4 linked regions of the Homo sapiens genome follow. The protein of the gene in region 1 purifies or fractionates together with the protein of each later gene. This does not show direct contact. Each region holds a gene or a part of one and is shown in the gene's direction. Other genes may lie near its edges. The genes, in order: PARP3, RALGAPB, MTHFD2 and EHMT1.

Region 1 (4,558 bases):
CCTGTCCCCCTAGATGTGAAGAAGATGCCCCTGGGAAAGCTGAGCAAGCAACAGATTGCACGGGGTTTCGAGGCCTTGGAGGCGCTGGAGGAGGCCCTGAAAGGCCCCACGGATGGTGGCCAAAGCCTGGAGGAGCTGTCCTCACACTTTTACACCGTCATCCCGCACAACTTCGGCCACAGCCAGCCCCCGCCCATCAATTCCCCTGAGCTTCTGCAGGCCAAGAAGGACATGCTGCTGGTGAGGGCTGGCAGGGGTGCGGGCAGGCAGTGGGGCACTGAACAGACAGCCTAGGCGAGCGAGATGAAGGGCAGGTGGCCAAGAAGGCCCAGAAGGATGGACTGCCTGGGCAGGCTGACAGACGGGTGGGGAAGGCTGGGCAGACAGATAGGGTGGGGAGGGACAGGTGGGACACACAGGTGGGGTGGCTACAATACCAGTCATGTGAGAGAGGAGAGGGGAGGCCAGAGGTCAAGTGGGAAGACAAACTGCCAGGGCCCATCATCCTAGGTGCTGGCGGACATCGAGCTGGCCCAGGCCCTGCAGGCAGTCTCTGAGCAGGAGAAGACGGTGGAGGAGGTGCCACACCCCCTGGACCGAGACTACCAGCTTCTCAAGTGCCAGCTGCAGCTGCTAGACTCTGGAGCACCTGAGTACAAGGTGAGTTGGGCCCCACAGAGGGGCCAGGCTATCAGTGGGCACTGTCCCTCTGCCCACCTGCCCTCGAGGTGCCCAGAGGAATACTCGCCCTCAGCCTTCTCTTCCTGTGTCTCCAGGGCCTGAGGAGGGCTTGGGACTGGGGGAAGAAAAATGGGGGATTAGCTCCTGAGCCTCCCACCCTGGCAACCAGCTTCTGCTCTCCCCACAGGTGATACAGACCTACTTAGAACAGACTGGCAGCAACCACAGGTGCCCTACACTTCAACACATCTGGAAAGTAAACCAAGAAGGGGAGGTGAGGGAGGTTCCCCCACCTCTCCCCCATCACCACTGTGCCTTAGGAAGATGTCCTTGGCTAATCGGTCCCTTAGCAAATCGTTTAGCAGCTCTGGTCAGTTTCTGCCGGCCATGAGTGCGCGTGAGTAAGCAGAGGGACACTAGGCCTTGGTCACAAGCAGCAGGGCAAGGCGACTGAGTGCTCGGGTGGCATCACTCCCATTTCTCACTTCCTCTCCACTCAGGAAGACAGATTCCAGGCCCACTCCAAACTGGGTAATCGGAAGCTGCTGTGGCATGGCACCAACATGGCCGTGGTGGCCGCCATCCTCACTAGTGGGCTCCGCATCATGCCACATTCTGGTGGGCGTGTTGGCAAGGGCATCTACTTTGCCTCAGAGAACAGCAAGTCAGCTGGATATGGTGAGGTGCCCCTCTGGGCCAAGCCCTGGGAGGGTTGGCACTAAGATGGATTGGGCCCAGTCCTTGGCCACTGGAAATTCATGGTGAATCCAAGAGAGGAATCCTTTAATGGTTAATGACTACAGTGCTCAGTGGGCTGTCCTGGGCTTTGGTGGCGGGGGGTCTTAGAGAAAGTGTCTGATGGTCAGGGATGGCTTCCTGGGGGAGGCAATACAGATAGGATGGGTGCACCAACCAGACCTGGGAGGGGGTAAAAGGGGAGCCTTTGAGCCAGGTGTGGTGGCATACACCTGTAGTTCCATCTACTCTGGAGGCTGAGGCAGGAGGAACGCTTGAGCCCACAAGTTTAAGGCTGCCATGAGCTATGATCACACTCCAGCCTGTGTGACAGAGCCAGACTCCATCTGAAAAAATAAAAATAAAAAAGAGGAGACGTCAAGGCAAGGGGATAGGCAGAGAGGCTGGGAGGATGTGAGGATGTGGCAGGTCAGGGCTTCCAAACACTTCCTGATACTGGAGCTCAGAGCAATGCCTAGCCGGGGGCAGGGTGGGCTAGGGGCCCAGAACGATCGAGGAGGCTTTATCCAGAGAGTGATGGTTAGCCCAGCTGGACTTGTCTGTAGCAGGATCCCAGTGGCTACAGCTGTGGAGAGGGGGGCAGCAGCCAGAGGCTGCAGAGAGGCCATCCTCTTATCCAGGCTGGATGTGATGGGTGCCTGGCCCAAGGGCTGGGAAGTGCAGGGGAGGGAGCCCATGAGAGGGGCATGTAGGAGATGGGATGGGGAGCGTGTGGGAAAGGGTCAAGGCTGTCTCCAGTGACTTCTGAGTTTCTGGCCAGGAGTGTCCTCACCAAAATGACCCCCCCAGACCAGCTCCTCCACCCAGGCTGTCCCCATCATTGGAGGCCACCACCCAGCTGGCCAAGAGAGCAAGGACCAAGGATTCATCCCAGAACAGATGGGGCTGAAGTTCTAGGATGCCTGAGGTCACCAAGAGCAAGGGGTCCACCAGGAGGGCAGAGGGGCTTAGGAAAGAGTGGCGGGGTGGAGGGCTTAGGAGAGCCAGCGCGAGGAAGTCCCAGGTAGGGGCTGATGATGTCAGGAGCAAAGTCAGCAGAGCAGGCCAGGGAGAAAAGCCCCTGCCACGGGTTTGGTCACTGGGAGGCCATTGCTGACCTTGGTGAGGACAGCAGAGGGTACAGATGCCTGGCCATAGGGAGCACAGTGAGGTGGGAGGGAGCAGGCCGGGACAAGGAGGGAGTGACGGTTGGGGGAGAGTGAGCCTTTTCTTGCTGGAGCAGCAAAGCCAGAAGGAATAACATCGCAGCAGAGAGGGGCCCCACAGGTCAGCAGGAGGCAGGCTGAGCTGCCCACCGGTGCCTCCCTGTGTCTTGCAGTTATTGGCATGAAGTGTGGGGCCCACCATGTCGGCTACATGTTCCTGGGTGAGGTGGCCCTGGGCAGAGAGCACCATATCAACACGGACAACCCCAGCTTGAAGAGCCCACCTCCTGGCTTCGACAGTGTCATTGCCCGAGGCCACACCGAGCCTGGTGAGTCCTCAGAAGCTGTACAGCCCAAGGAGAGAGGTGGGGCCGAGATAGGGGCTGGGACATTTTCAGGGAGGGGGCTGTGAAGAGGGACAAAAAGAAGCTTCCCTGTCGTCACTCAGTTTGTCATTTGACAAACATCCACTGGTTCAACACATCATTCCTGGGCATCCCGGAGGGCTTCAAAAAGAGGAGTTGTTGACTGAGCATTGAAGGATTAGTACAAGTTTCCCAGAGAGAAGTCGGGGAGGACACCCCAGGCAGAAGCCCCAGCCCCTGCAGTGGTTTGGAGGTGGGCAAGGTGGAAATGAGCAGGCGTGCCCTGTGACAGACATGGAGAGCATAGGGGGCAGGACTTACTCGTAAGGCCTGGGACCAGTGACCCCTGGGCCACCCTGGCCCTTGCTGTGCCCTGCAGATCCGACCCAGGACACTGAGTTGGAGCTGGATGGCCAGCAAGTGGTGGTGCCCCAGGGCCAGCCTGTGCCCTGCCCAGAGTTCAGCAGCTCCACATTCTCCCAGAGCGAGTACCTCATCTACCAGGAGAGCCAGTGTCGCCTGCGCTACCTGCTGGAGGTCCACCTCTGAGTGCCCGCCCTGTCCCCCGGGGTCCTGCAAGGCTGGACTGTGATCTTCAATCATCCTGCCCATCTCTGGTACCCCTATATCACTCCTTTTTTTCAAGAATACAATACGTTGTTGTTAACTATAGTCACCATGCTGTACAAGATCCCTGAACTTATGCCTCCTAACTGAAATTTTGTATTCTTTGACACATCTGCCCAGTCCCTCTCCTCCCAGCCCATGGTAACCAGCATTTGACTCTTTACTTGTATAAGGGCAGCTTTTATAGGTTCCACATGTAAGTGAGATCATGCAGTGTTTGTCTTTCTGTGCCTGGCTTATTTCACTCAGCATAATGTGCACCGGGTTCACCCATGTTTTCATAAATGACAAGATTTCCTCCTTTTTTAAGGCTGAATGGTACTCTGTTATGTATATGCACCACATTTCCTCTATCCGTTCATCTATCAGTGGACACCAAGCTGCTTCCATATCTTGGCTATTGTGAACAGTGCTGCAGTGAACTGGGAAAGCAGACGTCTCTTGAACATACTGATTTCATTTCCCTTTGATGTATACCCAGTAGTGGGGTTTCTGGATCCATATCACCCCTTCTTGCCAGGCTCCCCTGTGTCCCAGACATCGATCCCCCTTCCCTCCAATCCCTGTTAGCCTTGATGTGTCTGTGGCCCCAGAGTCTTGCCTCCTAAAGTGATGGGTGTGGTACGGGCGTATTACAGGGACACAGATGCAGCAGCTTACTCAAGGGGCACAGCTGAGAGTGGCTTGGATCCCACATCCACCCAGGCCGTCCATCCTGGCCTGGACTGCATGTTGGAGCCATGTGGTCACCAAGGTAGGCTAAACTGCAGGCATGTGCAAGCAGCTTTACTAAACATGGTATTCTCTTGCCCCAGCCTCTGCCTGTCTGTGCCACAACTGTGCTGGGCCTGGGCCTCCAGCCACACTCCAGGGAGCGAGCGCTCACATGGGTTGATGTGGATCATGCACATACTCCTTGCCCCTCCTGGTCCATCACTGCAACAACCTGCTTCCTCTAATTGAGCCTTCAAGGGGGACCCCCAC
Region 2 (4,053 bases), on another chromosome or scaffold:
AGGAGAACTTGGCATTAAGTTCAGGCCTCTAATGGTTTGCAGAAAATAGGAGAAACACCAGGAGATCAATAATGAGAAAATATGGCTTTTAAACACCAGGAGATCAATAATGAGAAAATATGGCTTTGGTTTTCTAAAATGGGATAGAGACGGTTGTCACAAAGCATATGGAATATGAGCTTGCTGTGTTCCATGCAAGATTCTAAGATATCAGATAGGTTGCTGGTAAGGGAGTAGGTCACTAAGATCAAATTATACCAGCCTAACTGCATTTTCTGTTCCGGATATTGACCAGACTGGAAAGGCAGATTAAATGTCTCTGAAATAAAGACATACAGGTATGCATCTGGGGTAATGGGCTTTTTAATCTTGGAGGGGAGAGTCTGGACAGCATGCCATGGCATTCACCACAAGGAGTAAATCTGACCTGTCAAGAAGCATGGCTGTGGTCAATTAAAATTCAGAAGAGTGGAAGGGGACACATTGATGCACAAGGTAAACTGAAGATTTTGCTTTGGGAATTAACTGTTATCTTTTCCATTCTCCATAGCATTATGCAGTTGCTCGGCGCATTTCCTTCACCTAGTGGTCCTGCCTCTCCTTGTAGTCTTGTGAATGAGACCACTTTGATTAAATACTCCAGGCTGCCAACCATAAACAAGCATAGTTTCCGGTACTTTGTCTTGGATAACAGTGTCATCCTGGCAATGCTGGAACAACCTCTTGGAAATGAGCAGAGTAAGTTTATAGTACTTTGAGCCTTCTCTACTGCTTAATCAGTGTTACCAGTACCATGAAGCTGTTTCCAGGATCAGGGAAGGACAGCCTACAGATTCTAAGTAGGTCAGAAAGATTTCTAGCTGTGGGACAATAGCACCTGAAAAATAGGGGGGCAAAAAAATAGAATATACATATTACATAGAGTCTTTTAAAGGCTCTTGATGTGCATCTGAACTAGCTCTGTAGTTTTATAAAAGGTGGTGTTTTAGTGGGTTCCATTGTGTTGTTTATCTTTGTCACTTTTTCTTCCCCCTTGAACTTCGGATCCTGCCCCTCTGCTCCCCTCCCTCTCACTCCTCATGTTCTGTATCAATTGTTGGTGCTACCTACACAGGCTAGAAACTTGAGGAGTTATCTTTACCTGCCCCTTCCTGTTACTCACTTATATAATTAGTTTCTAAGTTTCCATCTTCCCAGGGACCCTTGAATTTTTCCTTTCCTCTGTATTTTCCCAATACATCCAAGTGCAGGTCCTTATTATTTCTCACCTAGATTATTACAGCTGTTTCCTACCTACTCTGATTCCCTCAACCCCTAAACCCCTTGCCAGTTCTAACATGTGTTTTCCCTACTTTCATCCTACTTGCTGCCACCATAGTATTCATCTTCAACCACAAATGACCATGCCAGTGCCCTACTGAAAATCCTTCAGTGATTTTCCATTAACACAACATGCACTGTTTTCCTCCTTTCCCTCCCCCTCAGTTATAAGCCATCTCACAATATGTGATTATCACTGCGACCCAAACTATCCACAAGTACATTTTTTTTTTCTGATGGTAATTGGCATCAGCCAGTATGTAAAAGAAGCATGTTCTCAGACCCTTATTGCTGGGAAGGGGAAGGAAAGTGAAGGTTACAGAATCTGTGGGTATAAAGTGACCCATGGAGTCACCTGGTATACAATTCCCTTAGTTATGAGTGAAAAAACTCAGGCTCACAGAGGGTATATGACTTGCCCAGGGTTACTTGGGACTAGAGCCCAGATTTTCTAAACCCTGTATTGTCCCTTTCTATTATTATTGTCGCACAGTGATAGGATTTGCTCAGTGATTAAAGATTTGCCTTCTTGCCTTTGTAAAGGTGAAGAGTTCTGTGCCAGTTTTGTTGATTATATGAGTAAGAGCTCATAAATCCATGAAGTGAAAGTGAGACATTTCCCTGCAGTTTGAGATGAAAAGAATACCATCATAAACTTCTGTTGTGTTGTGGTGAGATGCGGTGACATTAATGTGAAATGGAATGGTGCCTTTTATTATTGTCTAACTTCAGAACTGCTACTCCCAAGTCTTTTCTACAGGCATCTCATCCTTCTCTACCCTAGACATGGAGCTTGCTTGGCTTTCTTTCCTAGCCTGTGCCTGTTCATGATTCCTCCAGCCTCCTACTCCAAGCCATCTGCTGAGGAGTCTGCAAAATCCCAGTGTCCCCTTCAGGCTTCCTGGCCTTTTTCCAGCTTTTTAAAGACTCTCCTACTTTCATTCCAAATAATTTCATTGCATAGGAAGTGTACCAAAAATACAAGCAATTGGAATTGTATAGATTTACAAGGACATTTTAATAGTTTATTGTAATAATAAGAAATTATAGAGAAGTTTGAAGGCGTTTGACTCCCATATCTGAGACGGAAGAATAAAAAAAAGGATCTGGGTCACTCGGGAAGTCCATCCTGAGTGTTTTTTTTAACACCCCCATCATGTCCCTGAACTTCTGCTGAGATGGAACAGTGCCTGCCTGTGGTGGGCAGTGGTACACAAAGGCATGGGCAGATATAACACTAACACTGCAAACACCCAGTCTGTCTTTCTACACTTAAGTTGTTCCCAACATTGGGAGGTTAAGAGTATTTACTAGGACAGTGTTTCCCACAAATGTGTACATGTACCATTGGAGGTATGTGAGATGATCTTAGTTGATACATTAGTGAACATTATTTTATGTATTTTTAAGCATGTGCTTTAAAATTATATAATTAGTACATGCCAAAATTCATGATTTTCCATTTAGAGATGCACAAGAGTGGTTGATACAAAGTAATAGTACTTACAGTACACGGGTATGGGTACGGCAGAAACCACAGAAGTGGTACACAAAAGATCAAAGCTTAGGAAACACTGTTGGGCCTTTGATTATGAGAAGCTCTGCAGTTGATAACAAGTTTATTTTAAATGGTTGTTGTCTGAAATTAAAACTTTTATATACATATTTTATTCTAGATGATTTTTTCCCCTCTGTCACTGTGCTGGTCCGGGGAATGTCTGGAAGACTTGCTTGGGCACAACAGCTTTGTCTTTTACCCAGAGGAGCAAAAGCAAATCAGAAGGTATTCATCAGAAGTTACAGGGAAGTGTGTGTGTGTTTTGTAATTTAAAGGTTAGGTAACATTCCAACAGAAGACACAGATCAAATAAATATTTTTGATCCCTAGCCAGATTCTCAGTCAGTGGGTTCATATCAGAATCATCTAGGAACCTAGAATTCCAGATGTACTCAATTACTCTTTAAAGACATGTTCAAGGCAGGTGTCTTTTCAAAAAGCTTTCCAGGTGATTCTGACATCTACTTAGGAGTAATTGCTGTTGTGGACAATGGCCCCAGTTTTTTCCATGTAATTTTACAAATGTAATAAAAGTCAGATATATACCATACGTGAAAAAAATTTGGTGGGACTTTTGATTTGTCCGCAACAGGACTTAGTTTGAAATTGTTTTATATGATTTGTTCTTATATAATAATTGGTAATATATTGTATAAATTTTATTTTTTTTATAAAGAGTCAGGGTCTTGTTCTGTTGCCCAGACTGGAGTGCAGTGGTGTAATCATAGCTCACTGCAGCCTCAAGCTCCTGGGCTCCAGTGATCCTCTTGCCTCATCCTCCTGAGTAGCTGAGACTGTAGGCACATGCCATGGCACCCAGCTCATTTTTAAAATTTTTTGTAGAGATAGGGTCTTGCTTTGTTGCCCAGGCTGATCCCAAACTTCTGTCTTCAAGTGATCTTCCCACCTCAGCTTCCCAAAGTGTTAGGATTACAGATGTGAGCTGTCACACCCAGCCTAATTAAAAAAAAAAAAAAAAATATATATATATATACACACACACACACATACATATACACACACACACACACATATGTATGCTGTGTATAATTTAATGAAATCTTTTGGGGTGCAGTTTATTTTATTACATTTGTAATTATGTGAATAATACTTGAGAAGTTGGAAAAATTCAGATAACGAAGAAATTTTAAATCACCTTTACTCACTATCCAGAG
Region 3 (4,053 bases), on another chromosome or scaffold:
CACTGCTCTGTTGAGCTAAGCTTTTGCGCCAACTGGACCACTGGCCAGCCTAGAGATTGTTGCCCTTGGCGTCACATACTCACTCCTGGTCTGTCAGCTTTGGATGATATGGTGGGGTCCCTGGGAAGAGCACATTGCCAACTGTGAGAAGGAGCTTCCTCCAGTCCCCTGCCCTGCCCCTATTCTTACCAGGAAAGTCTTCCCCAGAAGGGACTGTGGGGAGTGGTGGTCATTTTGATGTTTGACCTGTCCAGTATGTTGTTTGTTTGTTTGTTTATTTTTGAGACGGAGTCTAGCTCTGTCACCGAGGCTGGAGTGCAGTGGCACAATCTCAGCTCACCGCAACCTCTGCCTCCTGGTTTCAAGTGATTCTCCTGCCTCAGCCACCTGAGTAGCTGGGATTACAGGAGCCCACCACTACGCCCAGCTAATTTTTGTATTTTTAGTAGAGACAGGGTTTCATGTGTTGGCCAGGCTGGTCTCGAACTCCTTACCTTGTGATCTGCCCTCCTCGGCCTCCCAAAGTGCTGGGATTACAAACGTGAGCCATCGTGCCCGGCCTATATTGTTTGTTTATTCAACTACAGAATATAATTTATCGATTTAAACCACCATAAAAATGAAGTCAGTTGACTGGGAAATGATTTGAAATACATGCCTGGCTGCTAACAACAGGGACAAAACACGAACTACAAATGGCATATAAGCAGATAAGAAAAACTATTTAACCTCATGGTGAGGGGTCAAACAATTGCAAATTAAAACTGTAAAACACTTAGTAATGATCAGGGCGCAGGGTGGTGTAGCAGTTAAGAGCCCAGACTGATGTGAGACTCAGCTTGACCAAGCGCTGTCAGTCACTTAAACTCCCTGAGCTTCAAATTAATGATAATAATGATTTCTATCAACTTTATCCCCCTCCATATGTAGCTGGATATATTCATTCATTTATTTATTTATTTAGCAGAGACAGGGTTTTGCCATGTTGCCCAGGCCAGTCTCAAACTCCTGGGCTCAAGCCATCCTCCTGCCCCGGCCTCCCGAAGTGCTGGGATTACAGGCATAAGCCACTACACCTGGCAGAGTTTTAGTTTTTATAAAAATTCAAGTTATTTGGTTTTGTGACTCTGTTGCCTTCTGCAGAAATGAAGCTGTTGTCATTTCTGGAAGGAAACTGGCCCAGCAGATCAAGCAGGAAGTGCGGCAGGAGGTAGAAGAGTGGGTGGCCTCAGGCAACAAACGGCCACACCTGAGTGTGATCCTGGTTGGCGAGAATCCTGCAAGTCACTCCTATGTCCTCAACAAAACCAGGGCAGCTGCAGTTGTGGGTATGTGTCCTTCTGAGACCTCGACTGCGGTTCAGTTGAGGTTTATATGAGGCAAAGTCCATTCTAATTTATGATTTCTTTTTTCTGATTAGGAAACCCAAGCAGAGGAGGCTAATGTGATTGAACTGTATCCCAAAACTTTGTCATAGGAAATCAGACTATATCTTTCGGGGTTTATACAGTAGGACAGGAGATACTGGTTGGTATTCTCTGTGGCTTCTGGAAAGAATATAAGCTACATTCTGTTCTTAGTCTTTATATTTGATAGGTGACCCTGAATGCATTTTACATTTGCTTTCCTTGAGCAATAATGGGTCTCCAGTGGAGGTGTTTGAGTGTTTGCAGCTTAAAGCCTTAGAGGCTTAGGGGGCATGATTGAGCAATACAGTATTAGGTGACCTCAGTGATGAGGTCAGGAACACAGTCGTAGATTTGAAGGAAATGACTCTGACTTCTGGGAAATAGCTTTCAAGTTCTTCACCGATTGGTTCTAAAGCCAAACATGCAGTTTAGAAGCAGTTCAGGTCTGGATGATGGGGTTTGTGTTCTAGGTCTCACGGTACCACAGATTACTGTGTCTCTGTGGACAAGAGGTGGGTGGGCAGGCTCAGATATGCCTCTGCCTGCCCATCTGTGGGCCTGTGGTCTGAGCAGCAGGTGGCCTTTCCTTCGAAGGGCTGTGAAACCACTCGCGTGGCTGGGTGGGGTTACTGGCCTGTAAGCCTGTGGTTTTCTCTGTTCTTTATTATTGAGGAGTGAGGCCTCCTGCTCTTTTAATTGAAAGCCTTTAGAAACCTCTAGATAATGGCAAGCCATGGCATTTTGTTTTGTTTTTTGAGACGGCATTTCGCTCTTGTTGCCCAGGCTGGAGTGCAACGGCGTGATCTCGGCTCTCCGCAACCTCCGCCTCCCGGGTTCAAGTAATTCTCCTGCCTCAGCCTACCGAGTAGCTGGGATTATAGGCATGGGCCACCATGCCTGGCGAATTTTGTATTTTTAGTAGAGATGGGGTTTCTCCATGTTGGTCAGGCTGGTGTCGAACTCCCGACCTTAGGTGATCCACCTGCCTCAGGTGATCTGCGCCTGCCTCAGCCTCCCAAAGTGCTGGGATTACAGGCGTGAGCCACTGTGCCTGGCCAAGCCATGGCATTTTAAGACATTGGGAGGTAGTGTGGTGCAGAAAAAAAGAACATGGATTTTGGAACCAGAAAGACTGGCTGTATTATTAGCTCGCTTATTTATTTATTTATTTATTTAGAGACGGAGTCTCGCTCTGTTGCGCAGGCTGGAATGCAGTGGTGCGATCTCAGCTCACTGCAACCCCCGCCTCCCAGGTTCAAGCGATTCTCCTGCCTCAGCCTCCCAAGTAGCTGGGACTACAGGCGCGTTCCACCAAGCCTGGCTAATTTTTTGTATTTTTAGTAGAGACGGGTTTTCACCGTGTTAGCCAGGATGGTCTCCATCTCCTGACCTCGTGATCCGCTGGCCTTGGCCTCCCAAAGTGCTGGGATTACAGGCGTGAGCTACTGTGCCTGGCCTAGCTCGCTTATTTTTAAACCTCTCTGAGCCTCAGTCTGTCTGTAAAATAAGGTTAATGAAGATTGCATAGAATGAGGTATACAGGATGTGTTAAGCTAGTATTCTCTGGTGTATATATTTGTGAAGTTACTTTTTTAGGTTCCTTGAGCTACTTCAGCTTTTAGGGATGAGTGTGATGATACAAAACCCGTATGGTAGCCAAGTATGGTAGGCAACATAGCAGTGCTCATTAAATGCCTCAAAAATTTTTTTAACCTCAAAATTTCTTATAATAGGAATCAACAGTGAGACAATTATGAAACCAGCTTCAATTTCAGAGGAAGAATTGTTGAATTTAATCAATAAACTGAATAATGATGATAATGTAGATGGCCTCCTTGTTCAGTTGCCTCTTCCAGGTGAGTTTTGGACTCCATTTAACATGATTGCTGCTGCTTCTGCTCCTTTCCCTCTCCCTCCCTCTCTCTCTCCCTCCCCATCCCCCTCCTCCTCCCTCTCCTTTCCTTGTCTCACTCTGTCACCCAGGCTAGAGTGCAATGGTACAATCATAGCTCATTGCATGCTCAAGCTCCTGGGTTCAAGGGATCCTCCTGCCTTAGCCTCCCAAATAGCTAGGACTATAGGCATGTCCACCATGCCCAGCTAATTTTTACATTTTTCCTAGAAATGAAAGTCTGTCTGTGTTGCCTGGGCTGGTCTTGGACTCTGTGCTTCCCAAAGTGCTGGGATTACAGGCATGAACTACCATGCCCTACCTAAAATGGTTTCTGAGGGGTAAAAAGGCCTTGTTACTTTATACACCTGGTTCTTCATGTGGATTTGGCTTAAAGGCAAAATAAACTCAAAAGAGTGAATATTTTATTAGAAATGGGACAGACCAACTCAGAATACCAATTACGCCTTGATTTAGTATTGTGGTCTTGATACAAAGGACAGTGGAGGGAAGCAGCTGTGATAGACGATATTGGCTTTGCTATTGGTGTTTGGCTTTGCTTATGCGAGTTCCTTCCATGCAGATGAAGTACATCTCAGAGGCAAGCTGTAGAAGAATAGATTTCCTTGCGAAGCAGATAAGCTGGAGTCAGGCAGTGCTGACTATGCGGTGGTGATTTAAGGCAACTGTGCCAATTTCTTTTTCAGAGCATATTGATGAGAGAAGGATCTGCAATGCTGTTTCTCCAGACAA
Region 4 (2,864 bases), on another chromosome or scaffold:
GTCAATTTGTTTGACTTTACCTGTCATTAGGCAAATCTCTGAGATTCTGTTCATCCACCCAGTGATGGCTTCAGCAGCCAGTGAATTTCGATGTAGAATTTCCGTTGGATTCTTTTTCTGTTTCTCCGCTGAGACTTCTCATTTCTCTGATATTTTCATGCCTTGAAATCTTTCTTTGTTCTTCATTGAGGACAGCCTTAGGAGCTGCCTTGAAAATACGTGTCTGTTGGCCCAGTGTCTGGTTCATCTCAAGGCTGGACTCAGTTGAGTGTTCTTTCGGACGTGTTCGTTTCCTCAGTGTTTCAAGCGTCAGGTCCCTTGAGTTGTTCCTGTTAACATGTGGGGAGGACTCTGGTTTCTCTTCTGCGTGGGCCTTGTTTCCCTAGTGCGATTGGCTGGGCCCCTTCTGCAGGCCCGGCCTCTCTAGTGGTCCCTGTGCTTTCGCCTCAGTCCTAGGATTGGCTGGGCTCCCTCCACAGGCTCCGCCTCCTACGTGGCTGCTGCACTTCGCCCCAGTCCTAGGATTGGCTGGGCTCCCTCCACAGGCTCCGCCTCCTACGTGGCCGCTGCACTTCGCCCCAGTCCTAGGATTGGCTGGGCTCCCTCCACAGGCTCCGCCTCCTACGTGGCCGCTGCACTTCGCCCCAGTCCTAGGATTGGCTGGGCTCCCTCCGCAGAACCCCCCAACCCCACGTGGCCCCTGTGCCTTCCCTCCAGTCCTAGGATTGGCCAGGCTCCCTCCACAGGCCCCACCTCCTACATGGCCTGTGTGCCTTCATTCCAGTCCTAGGATTGGCTGGGCTCCCTCCTCAGGCCCCGCTTCCCACGTGGCCTCTGCACCTCGCTCCCGTCCTAGAATTGGCTGGGCTCCCTCCACAGGCCCCGCCTTCCACGTGGCCTCTGCACCTCGCTCCCGTCCTAGAATTGGCTGGGCTCCCTCCACAGGCCCCGCCTCCCACGTGGCCACTGCACTTTGCTCCCATCCTAGGATTGGCTGGTCTCCCTCAGGCCCCGCCTCCCACGCGGCCTCTGCACCTCGCTCCAGTCCTAGGATTGGCTGGGCTCCCTCCGCAGGCCCTCCCCCCACCCACCCATGTGGCCCCTGTGCCTTCTCTCCAGTCCTAGGATTGGCTGGGCTCTCTCCGCAGGCCCCGCCTCCCACGTTGCCTATCTGCCTTACTCCAGCCGTCCTTCTCTGGACTGTTGTCTTTATCTGGTTCTGGTCGGGCAGAGATTTGTGTCACAGACTTTGACACCCCACCCATCTTAGAAGCTCGGAGCAGCGCTGTGTGCTCTGCCAGACGAGCTGCCCCTGGTGAAAGCTGGGCCTGGCCCCTCCAGTCGGAAGCCCCTCACTCTCCATTTTGCTGCTTATCAAGACCTTCGTGTGTGCGCCGTTGCTAGTTCCGGAATTGCATTCTGCACGAGGAGGGGTCGCCTATAGATTCTTAGTCCATCAGACCCCGAAGCAGAGGCCAAAGTCCACGCCAGGTGAGCCACTCTGAACTCTGTTTCTTTGGGGTAAACCAGGAGGCAGCTTCCCGCGCCTTTGGCTTTGGGGGCTGTGGCTGGTCCTGTCCTGCGGCCGTGCTCGCCTGGTTTACTGTCTTGTCACTGCCCGCGCCGTGAAGGTTGACGGAGAGCTGCTCTCGTCCACGCCTTTACCCGCTTGTTGGTTTGGGTTTTAACCTCTTGACCTCTGAGCGTCCCTGGCTCTCTGGTTAATGTTCATGCTGGGGCAGGTTGTGGACCAGGTGTCTCTGCCGGCAGGCCCCGCCCTCTCGGAACTCGGTCCTGGAAAGCCCCAGGTGCCTCCTTCCCCGTCTGCCTGGCTGTCGTCTGTGGTGTTGCCTCTTCCCGTCGCTGGGTAACAAACCACGCCACCCACCCGCAGCTCGCCATGGCGGCCACCCACTCGGCCCAGTGTGCGCAGCAGGGGTTGGGCGTGCCGGGCCTCGGGCTGCACAGGCAGGGTGCTGCTGAGCCCAGGTCCCTGTGGTTGCGTGGGCAGCGTCTAGGTTCCTTGCTAGCTGCCGGCCGGGACCACCTACCTTACTCCCACGCAGCTCCTCCATCCAGGCCCCAGCAGCTCCAAGCCCTGGGTCTCCAGAGAGAATTGCTTTTAAAGGGGTTGCGTGGTTAGGTCAGGCCCACCCACCTCGTCCCCCTCTCTATGGTCAATTCAGAATCCATCATCACAGGCCAGTGCCAGGGGCCAGGGCCCAGGGCCATGTGGCCACCCGGAATCCTGGGCTCCTCTCCAAGGCACCAGGGTGAGGAGGACGCCTCAGTCTCTTCGGCCTCGTGTTCCACAGTCACATCAGCACCCGGAAGGGCTGCAGCAGAAGTCGTTTTCTGTGGGCAGCCTCCGCCTGACGGTCCTCCCTGGTGCCATTCGCCACTGAGTCTTCCCAGACCCTCTGGGGACTGCTCCGCCTCCTCGTCACCAAGACAGTGTGTCCCGGATGCCAGCTCCATCCCTCCCGACCCCCTCAGCCCCTGCCACTGCCTCACGGGGCTCTTGCAGCCCCGGCCTCCTTTCTCCTATTGGTGCCAGACAGCCCCATGGGTCCTCGGGTGGGATGGCGCTGTCCACATTCCACCGCGCTGGAAGCCCCATGGGGACGCCGTCAAGGGAACGGCCCGCACCACCCCCACCCCACCACAGACGGAGGCCCAGCGAGGACGGCAGGGTGCGGGGTGGGTGGCCACACAGCGAGGAGAAGGCTGGCGGAGGCTCCGCACCGCCGCCACAGGTCACTGGAGAAGGCCCCTCCTGCATGGCGGGCCTGCGCCCAACTGCAGGCTCCGGGACTGCCATGCATGGCCGTACCCGGCGAGGCCGGCGTGTCGGGGCCTTGCTA

What was found.
Region 2: the proteins of PARP3 (region 1) and RALGAPB purify together in Homo sapiens (affinity purification with mass spectrometry; one large-scale study listed by BioGRID and IntAct). This does not show direct contact.
Region 3: the proteins of PARP3 (region 1) and MTHFD2 purify together in Homo sapiens (affinity purification with mass spectrometry; one large-scale study listed by BioGRID and IntAct). This does not show direct contact.
Region 4: the proteins of PARP3 (region 1) and EHMT1 purify together in Homo sapiens (affinity purification with western blotting, with the first as the bait; one study listed by BioGRID). This does not show direct contact.

What each region holds. Positions count from the first base shown.
Region 1 is NC_000003.12:51,944,985-51,949,542, forward strand, and holds the end of PARP3 (protein mono-ADP-ribosyltransferase PARP3), read left to right. Parts: intron 1-13; coding exon 14-240; intron 241-510; coding exon 511-660; intron 661-868; coding exon 869-955; intron 956-1,181; coding exon 1,182-1,359; intron 1,360-2,755; coding exon 2,756-2,911; intron 2,912-3,326; coding exon 3,327-3,496; 3' UTR 3,497-3,883; downstream 3,884-4,558. UniProt on the Homo sapiens protein: Mono-ADP-ribosyltransferase that mediates mono-ADP-ribosylation of target proteins and plays a key role in the response to DNA damage. Mediates mono-ADP-ribosylation of glutamate, aspartate or lysine residues on target proteins.
Region 2 is NC_000020.11:38,545,693-38,549,745, forward strand, and holds part of RALGAPB (ral GTPase-activating protein subunit beta), read left to right. Parts: intron 1-550; coding exon 551-738; intron 739-2,996; coding exon 2,997-3,103; intron 3,104-4,053. UniProt on the Homo sapiens protein: Non-catalytic subunit of the heterodimeric RalGAP1 and RalGAP2 complexes which act as GTPase activators for the Ras-like small GTPases RALA and RALB.
Region 3 is NC_000002.12:74,204,562-74,208,614, forward strand, and holds part of MTHFD2 (bifunctional methylenetetrahydrofolate dehydrogenase/cyclohydrolase, mitochondrial isoform A precursor), read left to right. Parts: intron 1-1,143; coding exon 1,144-1,328; intron 1,329-3,142; coding exon 3,143-3,265; intron 3,266-4,007; coding exon 4,008-4,053. UniProt on the Homo sapiens protein: Although its dehydrogenase activity is NAD-specific, it can also utilize NADP at a reduced efficiency.
Region 4 is NC_000009.12:137,831,453-137,834,316, forward strand, and holds part of EHMT1 (histone-lysine N-methyltransferase EHMT1), read left to right. Parts: intron 1-2,864. UniProt on the Homo sapiens protein: Histone methyltransferase that specifically mono- and dimethylates 'Lys-9' of histone H3 (H3K9me1 and H3K9me2, respectively) in euchromatin.